Homo sapiens: one gene and its partner. The protein of the gene in region 2 interacts with the protein of the main gene of each other region in a pairwise test. Each region holds a gene or a part of one and is shown on either strand. Other genes may lie near its edges. The genes, in order: DCLK3 and SALL1.

The links.
Region 1: the proteins of SALL1 (region 2) and DCLK3 interact in a two-hybrid assay, tested with the Homo sapiens proteins (one study listed by IntAct).

Annotation. Positions count from the first base shown.
Region 1 is NC_000003.12:36,754,403-36,761,673, forward strand, and holds part of DCLK3 (serine/threonine-protein kinase DCLK3), read right to left. Parts: intron 1-7,271.
Region 2 is NC_000016.10:51,148,027-51,155,630, forward strand, and holds the start of SALL1 (sal-like protein 1), read right to left. Parts: upstream 3,245-7,604; 5' UTR 3,216-3,244; coding exon 3,140-3,215; intron 2,572-3,139; exon of another isoform or gene 2,355-2,571; intron 1-2,354. UniProt on the Homo sapiens protein: Transcriptional repressor involved in organogenesis. Plays an essential role in ureteric bud invasion during kidney development.

The DNA of each region.
Region 1 (7,271 bases), on a different chromosome or scaffold from region 2:
GACGTAGTCACCTTTTATTTTACATTAAACAGTCTGACCTGCCAGGCCTGTCTTTAACATTACTGAAGAGGTGGCATCCTCTGACATCATCTTTTCTTATCCAGACCGAAAACGTAAACACATTATTACTGACAAGTTTCAATCATCTAGGAGAAGACTTTGATTTGGTGCTAGTAGTGTCTAGGACCAGTCAGAGACACTTACAGGTAAGTTTTAAATGTGTGAGAGATTATATCTCAAAGAGAAAACCCACAATGAACCCAAGCTATTTGTTTTCATGGCTCCTGTAACTCTGCACATGTTCTGTGATGGAGAAAACCTATGATTGCTACCACATAGCCAACTCCTTCATGTATCTTTTCTCTCCATCTTTCCCTGTCTCCATGAACTTATTTCAATTCTAGGACATACCTATGTGTTTGTTCTGAGCCACCTGGAAAGGCAATTAGAGTACATGGACTCTCATGAAATAGTTTTTATATGTTTTTACTTCCAAATATAATTAGAAAGTAGTCAGCTATAAGGCAAAAAAAATCATTAATTACATATATTAACTATCTATGAATTTTCTATATGTATAGTGAAGCTTATATGTACATACAAGCTTTTGACATAACTGCAATAAATTGAAAAACACATGAAAAAATTTATACATTTATATGTCAACATATAGAAAATTGCTAGGAATAACTAACAAAAAATGTGTATGAGCAACATAAGGAAAACTACAAAACTGTGAGAGGAATTAGAAAAGCCGTTTAAATGACTGTCCATTCCAGAATGTAAAAGCCTAATAGACATATCAGTTCTTCCCATTTGTAATTTGTAGGTTTTGTGCAACTGAAACACTAATACAATTTTTGAGGGAGGACAGGAAGGAGATGAGTAGTGAGTAATGAAGATAGTAAAATATATTACAGAGCTACAATTACAATGTCTTGGTACTTGCACAAGAATTTAAGAAAAAAAACTATAGTTCCAAAATAGATACTACTTTATATGAGAATTTAACGTATAATGAAAGGTGATTACAAACTAGCCAGGAAGGTTAGAATGATTCTTATTCAATATTGGAACAACTGGTTAATAATTTGGAAATAAAATGAATTTAGATTCTTATTTTACAAATAATAACAAAATAACTTCCAGATGAATTAAAAACCATAGAGAAACATAAATTTTACTTTAATATTAATCAAACTACTGAAGAGGAGGGGAGTTTGGAAATGAGAAGCATTAAAGGAGGTCATGGGTAGCAGATCCCAAGAGTTCTTATGGACCAGTGTAGGATGGAGAAGTGGAGGATGGGCTGACATCAGTGGTGGCACCCAAAAAACGACAGTGTGACACTGTTTATCAGATAGATAGGTGCCCCAACTGATAAATATCAAAAAGCTCTAGGGCTACCACAATAAAAGACTCTTGCTTGTATGAATCCCAGTGTAAACCTAGCAGCTTTCTCCATCTCTGATCCTCCATTCAAAGCACATGGCCTCCAAGGTGGCCCCAGCAGCAGACGAGAAAGACAATAGTGGTATCCTGGCTTTCAACTGCCTGGAATGAGAAGTGACACATGGCACTTCCACCTACAGTCCAGTGGCCAGAGCTGGTCACATAACCCCAACCACCCCAAAAGATTCCTGGGTTGGTCTCTCTCAAAAGCACAGCCTAGGGCAAGGATATGGGTTGATTTGGGAGGTGATCTCAGACAGCACTAGAGGAGAGTGGAAAAGTGAAGTAGGACAGTGGCATGAAAGAGTAGGTTACTGCTATGGCCAACCTGGGCTCAGTTCTGCTGGGAACCTCTGGAGAGATTGAGTAGAACATGCCTCAGAGTTATCCTTCCAGAGGGGCAAGGAAACTGTGATATTCACCCATCCATTCCCTTCCATTGGTGGTTGAGGGCTGCTCCCAGGACATTAGCTGCCCAGCACTTCTGGGTGTGTGCACCAGATGGGGGCCAACCATGCCCCTGCAACCAAAGAAAGTCATCCAACAGTGTTGCAGTGGCTTGCAGTGGGAACCACCAGAACAGGAAAGATGTGTGCTCAGGGACCATGGACAGGGACTGATAGCATCTGCTAAAGAAGGGGAGCACATGGGTTATCTGGCAAGAACCACTGCCTCTGGCACAAATGGAGAGACCCAAGCTCCAGGGGACTTTGGTTGTAGCCCTCTGAAACCGAAACAACATCTGAACTAAAATGAATAACCAGCCTTGTCTAACCCATTCCTGGAAGAGACATTCCCAAAAAGTTATGGCTGTTATTGCTAGGAAATCTGCTGCTCCAACCAACCCTGAGACCCAAAGATACTTCCTGTAGGGTGCCTTGGACTAGCTTGTGGGTATGGAAACTGCTGTTAGGGGAAATGCCCTGCTAGTCTGGGGGGATTCTGGGATGAAAAAACATGGTGCCATCCTCAAGTGGCATGTGGTGTCTGGGGGTGACAGGTATGCCTTCGCTCACAGAACCTTTATCACAAGTTCCAGATAGACTCAGAGGCCCTCCAGGGGAGGCTACACATCTCCCTGGAGGGCCTCAGAGGCTCTGCTATGAAAACAATGCCTGAGACCAGGAGAGAGCATAAGTTTCTCAAGTGGGAACAGGAAAGTAAAAGCCACTTCTGGCAATCTGCTCATGTTGCTTCCCTCCATCAGTTGGTGCATTAGGTTAATTATTTATACAAAAAGTAAATACCAAGTTACATTTTAAAATATGTAATGCCAAAATTTTAATTAACATGAGATTTTACTCTAGAAACCACAGGGGTTTATTTTCGGTTTGTGAAATTTTTGTCTGTTTGTGTGGCTTTGTGTTCTCTGCCCTCCACTTCCCCAAAGTGCAGTGTTTCCATTTTACTTCTTATGTAATTACCTAGAGATCATTTAACCTCTACTCATTCCTCAAAGAATTTTCAGTATCTCCATCCAAAAACACAGAGTGGAAAGTTGATCGTTTGTGCTCTTAAAATAAAAACTGAAGGCAGAAAACTAATCTCACATTATATGGCATGACAGCTTCTAGCTCAGAACCATCCACAATTTTCTCAATTTTTTTCACCTCCTTTGAACATACAGAAAACAAAAAAAAAGTATGTGCTTAATCAGGTAATATTGCCAGAATCTGCTCCTACAGGACAGAAGCAGCAAGCACAATAGAAAAGCTAATAAAGCCATTCAAATCATCTTAATGAGCACTAATTAATGTCCCATAGAAGAAAAATAGACACTGCAAGATGTAGCAGTTTCTCAGAAACTGGTTCAGGAAAAGTCACATCAGTGAGAAAAGATGGGATGGTGAATACGGCAGAACACAGTTCTGGTCTTGAGCTCTTCTGTTCTTGCCATGGACATCTGACACCTGCGGTCCTCATCCTGGTCGGTGGTACCACCAACCACCCTCGACCTCCAAGACCAAGAGTCATCCCTGACTCCTCTTCCCTTCCATCCCCTCCCACATCGCAGTCAACCTCAAAGTCCTGTGGATTCCAGCTCCTGCGTGTCTCTCAAATCCATGCTTCCTCTCTCCCATTACCTTAACTACATCTGAGCACCTGCCCTCATCACATCTTAGCTCAGCTACCTGCAAGCCTCCCCAGATTCTGCTGTCTCAGCCTTCCTCTCTCCCCCTCAGCCACCCCATACACCCTGGGAAAAGTGATGTCTCTGAACCATAAAGCTGGTCATCTATGTCCCCTTCATTAAACACTCCAGTAGTTTTCCAGCTGTTTCTCAAATTCCAGGAGATCCTCAAACCTATCTTAGGAGGGTCCATGAGTTCTCAAAATTGTGTTTTGTTTAACTTTCTGTTTTCACTTTCATGATCACCTTTTTTTAAGAATCAATAGAAACATATTCTGGATCATCTGAATGGCCATGTTATGACTAAGTGCTACCACATAATTTCACCATATATACTCTTGCATTTATACTGTAGTTGATGCTATGGTCTGAATATCCCGGAAAATTCATATGTTAAAACTTAGTCCCCATTGTGGTGATATTGAAGGGTGGGGGCTTTGGGGAAGTGATTAAGTCACGAGGGCTCTACCTTAAAGAATGGATGAGTGACTGACAAAAGGGCTGAAAAGAAATAGCTTAGGCCCTTTGTTGGTTCCTGTTCCTTCCACTGTGTGAAGACACAAGGTCCATCCCCTTTGGAGTGTGTAGCAACAAGCAGAGAATAAGCCTTCACCACACATTAAGCTTGCAGGTGCCCTAATCATGGCCTGCCAGTCTCCAGAACTGTTGGGAAAGAATCTCTGTTCTTTACAAATTACCCAGGCTCAGGTGTTTTCCTATGGCAGCACAAACAGACTGAGACAGTTGGCATCAAGAAACATTATTTTAATTATCACAGGCCAATGAGAAAATAACAAATCAGGTTTAGTGTATAGAAAGGAAACTGATGAGAAAATTGAGCCATCATAAAACCTTGTGGCATGGCACACTGCACACCAAATTCATAAGAACCTGAACAACAGCTGTTATAACCAGAAATAGGGATTTCATTTTAGCAAAAATAACTTCATCCAGAACATTAAATTCATGAGGTTAATCCAAATGTATTTGACTTGTAGCTGTGTTGATATTTTATTTATATATTTGTTTTGGTTATGTGGTCATATGAAAGCTCTAAGTATAAAGAGTTTAGACCCATGTAAAACTACTACATATCTGAACTGCACTATAATAAAAATAATTTAAGCAACACTAGGAATCTACAAGAATTTTTTTCCTTTAAAGGAATTCCCATATTACTCTTATTTGAGAAACTGTGGCCTCAGAATGAGGCTTAAGCTTCATAACAAGACATATGTGGGAGAGTTGATATTCTCTGACTTTTTCTTCCATCCCAGCCGCCATCCCCTATTTCCCAGCCCCCTGCGCCCACAATTAGTTCTGACCAATGGGCTGTGGACAAAAGCAACATTGCATTCATTCCAGACGAGCCAGAGAGACACTCTCCCTCTATCTCTTCCTGCACTGGTGACTACAGTGGCCACATTTTCCAGATGGCAAGGCTGAAAACTGGGAGAAGCTCTGTCTACTTGGCTATCAATTGACCTGTGAGGGACACACATTGTGTGTGAGAAGTAACCTTCGTTGAGTTAAACTACCAAGATGATGAAGTTGATTTGTTACTGCAGCAAAGCTTAGAAAACCCTCCTGACTAATACACTTCATGAACTGAGCTCTGCTCCCTGATCAAGTCCTCCCCATCACACTCCATGCTCCAAACAACTCTTAGTTCAGTGACCTGAACACACCAAGCTGTTTCATCATGGCAGCCTACTTTTGCACATGCTGTTCCTCAGTCTTAGAATACTATTCCACACACTCTTCTGCCCTCCTCCAATCCCAGACACAGTGATTTATCCATCAAAACCCAGTTCAGATTTAATTACCACCAGGAAGGGTTCCTCCCTTTCTTAACTCTCTTACCTGCCTCTCCATTACCCTAACGCCACAGAGTGCTCATCTCACCATATCATAATCGTACATTTCTATGTCTCACACCTCCTCACCCACTCCCCGCAATCACACTGTGGCAGGGGCAGTGATGGGCCAATGGCTTATTCATCTCTACATCCTCAGGGCCAGCATGCAAGAGCAGGCAGTATTTGGCCATTTGGCCAGGAAGAATTTCCTCCAGGAGGCTGGTCCTAGGGCATTTGAAGGAAGCTGGGTTTGATCCATTATCTACCCAGTAGGAACATCCTACTCAACAGCAGCAATTCCTAGCTCTCTCTACCCCAGCTCCAGGCCAGACCTGCCTAGGAGGCCTGAACCCTCCCCATCATCTCTCCAAACACAGTGCTCTTCAGGTCCCACAAAGGACTCAGGCTTTACCCAAGAGGGAGTAGCCTAGGGCCTTGTACTCAAAATGTGGTCCCTAAAGAAACAACATCTACATAGTATTCCATGGTGTATATGTGCCACATTTTCATTCTCAGCAAACTATCGCAAGGACAAAAAACCAAACACCGCATTTTCTCACTCATAGGTGGGAATTGAACAATGAGAATACATGGACACAGGAAGGGGAACATCACACACCGGGACCTGTTGTGGGGTTGGGGGAGGGGGGAGGGATAGCATTAGGAGATATACCTAATGTTAAATAACGAGTTAATGGGTGCAGCACACCAACATGGCACATGTATACATATGTAACTAACCTGCATGTTGTGCACATGTACCCTAAAACTTAAAGTATAATTAAAAAAAGAAAGAAACAACATCTACAGAACTTAGGAGCTAGGGAGAAAAGCAGAATCTTAGGCCCCACCCTAGACCTCCTGAATCAGAATCTATATTTTAATAAGATCCCCAGATGATTCATATGTCCAGCAATATTCAAAAAGTACTGGCCCCAGGCAGCCAAACAGAATCCATTCAGCTAAAAGGTAACTTTAATAACAATACTTTTCATTTGTAATAATATCTGGTAATTGCTTTACATCACTAAATCCTCAGAGCAATTTGAATATGCCCATTTTACCAATAAGGAAACCGAGGCTCAGAGTAGTTGGGTATCTCGCTCAGGATCACATGGGTTTGAGGGGCCAGAGCCCAAATGTGAAAGCAATTCTGATGGACTCACCTCCATAACTACACACTACATGACACCCTGCCCTTTGCAAATTCTGTCAACATTTAGCCTTCAAAACCAGCCCAAGCAGCTCTGGAGACTTCCCTGTCCCTTCATGCAGCCACTGATCTGGTGATTATCTCTATTCTACCACTTGCTATCCACATCATGATGCCTCTACATACACCACTGTCCCCAAGAGATTGCCAGTTGTCTCTGTATAAAGATTTTATGGGCTTCCCCTATAATCACTGGATGAGTCCATGAAAATATTTCCCCTTTGACCATCAAAGAACACTCTGAGGCTGGCTGAACAATTGCTATTAAATGAATGGTGAAGATACTGAGGTTCCTAGAGAAGTTCAGTGACTTGCCCCAGGTCACCAGGAGGCTTCAGAACTCTGAGGATGGAGCCAAACTCCCCTCCCCAATTCCCAGTACAGATGTCTTCTTCCCACTCTTTCACTTTCCCTAGATTTCTCTCTTCTGACCTACATTACCAAGCAGTTAACAAAAACATTCTTTTCAAAGAACTCCCCCACGTATGCATCTTCAAAAGGGGCTCTGCTCCACCAGCAGACGGGCAAAATTTAGACATTATCAAGAGGCCACCAAAGGAAAAGGTGAGGAAACTCAGGATGCCAGATCAGATACAATGACCCTCCTGGATCCAAG
Region 2 (7,604 bases):
ATAAGAAGCAGAAAAATTACCAAGTTTAGAGTGTTTCTGGCATAGCAGCTGTACACTAAAGTAAAATAAAATACCAGCATCCTGAAATCGACCAAATACTCATTTTTGTTTTTGTTTTTGTATTTTGTTTGCATTTGCTTCAGATGAAGCTGTCTGTGTGGCTCCTTAGCATGGTCTGGATTTTCTTTGTAAGCACACACACACTCAAACACACACAGGCAGGACACACAACACCAAGCAGCCCTAGCTGCTTTCAGCTTTGGGAGCTGCTTCTTTAGGGCTCCTGTAACTTAGGTCTACAAACTTTTCTAGGTCTCACTCTGGGTAGAAGTCATACAATCTGAGGTGCTGATAAATGAGAAGTGCATGAACTAGATTTAATTTGGTATGTTTCATATTTCATTTGTCATATTTCAAAGACCATCTCAAGACATAAGAAAAAGTAATCAGAATGTTTGAAAAGGGGCTTGCCTTCTAAAAATATAACAATGTTTCTTTACGTAAAAAACAAAACAAAACAGAAAATCCAGCTACTCCTAGAAGTATGGGTTATATGTGGGGAGAAGAATGAGATTGCTGAACTCACTGCAGAAAAGGTGACTTTTAAAAGGTAACCTTGAGTTATGTCATGAACTTTCAATGCCATTTATTTCAGAACTACTCCCAAATAAAAGAACTGGAGTATGTTAGGCCCTCCTGTATGTCCAGCGTTGGGGGAGGATTACTTGTGTACTAATATTATTACAACACACTAAATCCTGAAACCCTATTACAAAATCTACCCTCTAGGCAACTTCTCCCAAACTTATTGTTCAACCATGTAAAAACAGTCATAACCTAAAACCATTACTACTGAAGAAAAAGAGGAGGGGGTGGGGAGAGGTGAGGAAAGAAGGCTGGGAGGGGGTGTTTCCTAGGGAGCCCCTAACAGTTTACTGCTTCTTTAGGACAATGTACCAGCTTTTGCGAAGAAAAAAGAAAGGAAGGAAGAGAAAGAAATCAAAAGAAGGAGAGAAAAGAGAAAGAAAGGAAACTTGATTGAGTTACTTAACTTACCTCAAAGCTCAAATAAACTAAATTGAAAAAAATAGTACTAATAAAGAATAATGGTAAGAGGTAGTGAACTCCTTTTATATTATTGCTTTATGAGAAGACTTAACTATTAAAAATTCCTGATACTGAAGGCAAAAGGCAAAGATCTTCCACGCATCATTTCTCCTCGAAGGCCGAGACTTTTTTTTTTTAAATGTAGAAAACCAGTACAAATTTACAAAACACACTATATAATGCTCTCTTATCTCTAGTTTGCTTTTTTGTGTACAAACTGTTAACCTGAACAGTTTTCCGGTGCAAAAGGTCTCACCAGAAACTTTAGGAAAGATGAGTGTGACTGCGGGAAGCAGAAGAAACTAAGCTGAGAAAACCCGGAAAAATACTCGGCGCAGCTGCTGCGGCCTTGGGTCATCTCACCTCCATCTACCCCGCGTGCTCGCTTTCGCTTGGGGTGGAAAGCGGGGTTCAGGGGCTCTTTTCAGCGGACTGAGAAATCGCAGAGGCCGTGGGTAAGGATTCAAGCTTGAGGAAACACTGGGGGCCGGGAGGAGGGCTATTGTAAAGCATTTCTTAATTAATTTCAAGTCCTCCATTTTTTTACAGGGACCCCAAGTCAGGATTCCCCTTTCCCGACATCAGGGGTAAAGGGAGCGGGGGTCCCTTCGCTTCACTGTGCCCCAGCTCTACCGAGAGGCAGGCCTCTGGGAAACGAGCCGGGGACCTGGGGGCCCGGGCGGCCGCAGCTTAGTGGGCTGAGGTGCCGATCAGGGTCACGCTTCGGAGCTCTGTCGGGGCCCAGCTCCCTCCTTCACACCCCAAAATGCCGCCTAGGGCGTGGGCATCCCGAGTGGCATCCGGAGCCGCTGAGACCCCGCCGAGATTGCTCCTTGTGCGTCCTCCCACAGCCGAGAGGCCAGCATCGTGCCGGGACGACCCGGGGACCCGAGTCCGGGCGCCGCTACACCGCCTCGGGCGCTAGGCCTGGGAGCTTTGAGGCCGGTACCGTGAAACACCTTTAGGAGCAAGGAGGGATTCCAGGTGTCCTCCCTTTGTACCCCAACTCCCTGCCCGGATCTCTTCCACTCTCTGCCATAGCCCCCACACACAAACTTTGTTCTGGACTTGTTCAGCCCCTTCGGGACCCACAGTTGTCGCCTCCATCGGAGAAAACAAGTGCCCCTGTTTCAGGGGGGATTCCACTCTGGCTGGCCACCCGCAAACCTGGAAAACTATTCTATGACTTCTTCCCTGACCCCCCTGGAAGTAGGGAGCACCACGATCCGCAGAGGGCGCATACCGACCAGAAAGATTTTGGGGGGCAGAGGGTGCAAGTGTTGTGGGAAGAGATGCGGAGATAAATTTTGCGAGCCAGACCCCGACACTTTCCCCGTCCGTTTGCACCGTCTCCGGAACAACTGGCGGCCAGCAGCACTCTCCACCCCGGCCGCAACCCCAGCGGGTCAGGCGCTGGCGCCCCGACACCAGTCCCCATCTTCTTGCAGCTCTGAACCTCCAAAGACACCCGGTTCTGCCTCGCAGGCCGAGGGGGAGTGTGCGTGGGGGCAGGGGGGCGCAGCGAACTCCCCCACGCTCGGAGTTCAGCCCAGCGCCCGAAGTAAACTTCCTTACCGCTGGCAGCAAGGCCGGGCGGCGGAGGCCGGGCCGGGTGCCCTGGGGCCGGCGCCGGGAGCGCTAGGGGCCCCGTGCGGTCAGGCCGGGGCGACCTCCACCCGCACCCACGCCTCATGGGGCTCCCGGGTCTTGGCCGCGGCTGGGATCCCCGGAAAAGCAGGGACGGAGAAGCCAGGCCGGCATGCCCGCCCTCCTTCCCCCGGGAGGACCCAACAACTCCGGAAAGATCCTGCCGGGAGATGTGCTCGCTTTCCCCGGGGCAGCGGGGGAAAGCCCAGCAAAGGCACATTGAAAATTAAAAAGAAAAAAAAAATTACGCCGAGTGGAAGAAGCAATCGGGGCCGCGGCGGCGGTGAGGTAGGGGGCGCGGGGGCCAGCCGCGTGTGAGTGGGTCCGAGTGTGCGTGAGTGTGAGTGCGTGTGTGTGTGTCCACGGCGCGGGCCGGAGCACTCACCATCTCGCCGGGGGAGCGAGGCCACTTCGGGGTCGGATTGGAAATGTTGAGGCTTCGCTTGCTTCCTCCGCGACATGCTGGCTCAAACATCAGCTGGGGCAGAATAAAAAATTACTAAAAAAAAATCTTCTCAAAATTACGGAAATCGAGCGGCGGCGGCGGCGGCGGCTCCCCCCGCCCGCCGGCCCGCCCGCCCCCTCCCCGGCTCCCCGGCCCCGGGCGCAGCGCGCATGTGTCCTGCTATAATTATGATTATCAATAATGCATTGCGATTAATCATAGAGGGGCTCTTTGAAAGGCGATTGGCACCGGGCCAGCGCTATTCAAACCCGCTCGCCTTAATCAATTAGTTCGTGATTTGCTGCAGACCCCTGTCTCTCCGCGCGCTGGCCCAATAAGCCGGCCGCGGGGCTGGCTCTGCGCGCCGCGCCGCCCGACACTGGGTTAACCCTCTTTGCGACCGCCCGGGACTCCGCGGCCCGGCCGCCGGGGGCCGGCCTCCTCTCCACTGCGGGCCCGGCGCCCCGGCAGGCGCCCCCCGCTCTCTCCCTCTCCCCTCCCTCTTCCCTCCCTCCTTCGCCCCCCCCCACAATCCCGGGCTGGGCCGACCCAAATTAGCATGCCCTCCCCGGAATTGAGCCGCCCCGGGTGGGGGGTGGGGCCGGGCGGCGAGGGCTGGGGACCCGGGCTGCCGGCGCGCTGCGAACTTCCCAACTCGGGGGCGAGGCGCGCCGGCCCGCGGGGGGAGGGAGTCCCGCGGCGGGATCAGGGGGGAGGGCGTCCCGTTTCGTGAGTGTTTCTTCGTTTCTTTAAGAGCTACCAGAAAGCAGCCCACCCCCACCCCCATTAAAAAAAAAAATAAGCGAGTGGGGAAGAGCCAGCCCCACGCCGGTCCGCCTCCCGCCCACGGCTCGGCCTCCCTCCCGCCTGGCTCGGCGCTCCTCCGCCCCGAGTTCTCCATCCCCTGGATCCCGGGCTCGCGGGGGCGCGGAGAAGAGGATCCAGGAAAGGTTTGGGAACCTGATGGGTTTGTGGCTGGGGGGAGGGGCAGTTCTCCCGCCACCCCATCCCCTCCCCGCCAGGGGCACTGATCCTCCAGCTTCTTGCTTGCTCCCTCGCTCCCTTTCTCTACCTCGGACATTCCCAGGACAATTAGGGCTGAAGTTTTCGGGAGAAGCAGCCCCGAGCCCGTGGGATAAGGGGGCGGCCCGGCTCCGCCCAGGACCCCTCCCGGACCTCCCCCCCGGCTGCCCCGGTTGGCTGCAGGGCGCGTCACTCCGCGGGGAGGCGGCGGCAGCGGTGGCGCCGCAGAGCCCCGGGCGGGCGGAGAGCGGGGACCGGCCTGGGCTCCGAGTTCAGCTCCGGCCGGGGGGAGGGGAGGGGCTGCGGCTCACACTGAGCGCAGCAGCGAGCACCGGCCTAGGGAGACACAGCCCGGGCGGACCCGGCACTGGACTGGGCCAGTCCCTGGGACCCCTGGGCACCCCGCCCTGGGGAGGGGGCCGCGCCCCAGCCTTCCGGGACGAGGTGGCGGCGCAGAGCCGGAAAGCGGGGTGGGGGGAGGGCGGTGGGGAGGTGTTCTGTCCGAGGCTGCCTGGCGGCGCCGAAGCTCGCCTCCACTTTTTGGGCACTTGCCGAGCGCGGCGCCCGAACTTTTCGCTCTATCACCATCTCCCTCAAGCTGAGATGCAACCTCCCTACCCTCGCCCCAGAGCCCAGAGCCAGGAGCCCGATCCCTCTGCCGGGCTCAGGCGCCCGCGAACCTGAGACTCGGTACGCGGCTCAGCCTAGCTCTTTCCCCTCGCGCCTCGGGGTCTCCTCGCTCCAAGGTTCTCGAAGTCTTGCGCCCGAAGGACTAAACTAAACTAAACTTCGGCTGAGTAATGGGGGAGGAGGGGGGTGCAGATACACAATCCCTGCCCTATCTCACGATCAGGAAAGGAGAGGGCTCATAAGGACGCCCCAATTCGCGAGCGCCCTTGAGTCTGGCCGGTGCCACGGTCGGTTCGCGCGAAGTGGGCACCGGTCTCCCGAGCCGACTTCGTGTACTCCGGACCTGTACTGCGCTCCGGTAGAGGACCCTTCCCTTTCTCTTAGCTTCTTAAATCTTTTCTTTTAAGGTGTAAATGTGTGTGTGTGCCGATGAATGTTTCTGTTTTTCATCTGCTGACTTTATTTTTTTTTATTGGTATAACTTCTCCCTTCTCTCTCCCTGCTCGTCCGTTTTCCACCTTTTCTCTTACTTATCTTCTGCCCTCGCTCACTCCCTAACACACACATTCACACCCTCTCCGCCTCGCTCTCCCGTTCTCGCCAGGTCCTGATGGGTACAGTAGATTTTGATAAAAAGACAAACGAAGCTATCAGTGGGGCTGATGTTGAAGAATGAAGATAATAATGTTTCCATAGGTGGTGCTTCAAATGCCATTATTTCTCACTGAATATTTAAAGAGATCCCTCGGCAAAGATGGATCTGCGCACTCCTGGGGTGTGAGCGGCTCGCATCTCCCAGACCCCGGGGAACGTGTACGGGAGCACGTGTAAATCCCGCACCCGCCTCCATCTCACAAACAGGGGTCCTCGCACACCCACCAATCCACACTGTCCCAGGTACACGAACGCGTTTGTGTGCACTTGCACACTCCTTTCCCGGAATGTGCCCGTGTTTGGAGCCGCCCGCATCCTTCTCTAACAATCTTGGCTTCTTGAAAGTCCGGGCCTCCCGGGCACCGCATGCAGCCAGGAACCTAGCGGAGCTGGCGGTCCCGCAAAGCTTTTCTCCTGGTGCGCGCCGCGTGCGCAGCAGGAAGCTCCCGGGAATAACTTCACACGTGTTTGTTACTTGGTCTACGTGTGATTTAAGATTAAGTGTAGGAAAAAAAAAAATTCCCCCCCCCCAAAAAAACACCACAACAAACAACCAAACGAAATGAACATGCGAAAAGCAGCTACGCGATGCTTAATTAAAAATGGGCGAGCAGAGACGAATAAATTGGGGGATCCAAACTTTAATAACTTTTTTCGTTTTTTTGCGTCCTCGACGGCGTAGAGGCGGGCGTTTCGATCTGCGCTTGGCGTCCCCCGCTAATTTCTTGTTTGTTTTCTTTCCCTCGGTGGCCCCGGGAAAGGAGATGGGAGGTGGAGGAGGGGGGGATGGGAGGAGGGGGATGGTCGGAATGGCGGGGAGAGGAGAATTGGTCTTTATTGTTGATGGCAATACATCAATTACGGGCCATTGTCTCGGTCCCAAGTTCCGTGGTTCGCTGGTGCGGGCGCTGCAGTGTCAGGGCGCTGGCGAGGCTCCGCGTGCCGCGATGCAAAGAAATACATCAATAAAAACAGAAGCAGAGTGGGGGTTATTCTTTATTTTTGTGCGGGTCGAAAGTAGGCGGCGAGCGGGAGTGAGGTGCCACTCCTGGAGTCCCTCCACGCGCCCTGCTCACCCCAGAGACCTGCGCGCTCTACGTGCGGTAGCACCCTCCTAACTCTGGGTGGAGGTGGGGTGGGGGGGGGACTACTGGGGAATCCGGGTAGCGAAGTTTGGACTTGCAGGTTCCGCCAGAGGGCCTGGTACTTAGGGGCTGATCCGCAATAGCGAATGGGGATAGCCCGAAGTGAGGCGGCAGCTGCGCCGGGGTCGCGACCTCACTGGCGGAGAGGAACCGCACCCGGGGGAGGCGCTTGGCGAGTTTTGCAAACTCCCATCTTGGGGGATTGATGCTCGTTCCTACTAATACGTCCCCTTAGTTTTCCCAAGTCCTAGAGTATCCTTGGTGGGTTGGCGGGGCCGAAGGTCTGTGCCCCAAGGCCGCAGGCCACAACTGGGGTCCCAGCCATGAGGTTTCCAGGCTTCTTTGCTCAACCTCTGGTCCTACGAAGGGCAACGTGGGGGGCGTCAAGGCTCGCGCATTCTGAGGCCTGGTTCTTCTACCCTCAAAAGTATCTTATTCTGGCCCGATCTGACCTCGGGTCTGGGATGGGGCCTGGGATGAGGCCTTGCCTGGGCCCCAGACCCTCTTTTCCGTTCCGTTGACGGTGCTTGGCCACCCTACCCCAGAAATGGAGGACGTCTCCAAGTGCTCTCCCTGCACCCCTGTTTCCTCAGTCCCCAGCTCAAGGCCCCGCTGGCCCCCGGCCGAGGCTAGAAGGGCAGTAGTGGAGGTTTCGTTTTCTTAAGCAAGGCAAAAAGCGGCGAAAAGGCGGCAGCGGCGCCCCGGGGGCGGGGGACGAGGCACATCGATGGTATCAACATTATTGATGGGGAAAAGTTCGGGGCAGGAGCCCGGAGATCAGGTTCCCAGTCCCTCCCCTGCCCGGAGGTGGGTGGGACAGAGCGGGTGGCCAGCTGTGTGTGTGTGTGCATGTGTGTGTGTTGGTGGGGGGGTGTTCCTGAATGCACCCGCATTAACCACCTGGGGTTTATTTGTATTTTCCTTGTCTGAAAGTTTGCGGGGGCAGAGGGAAA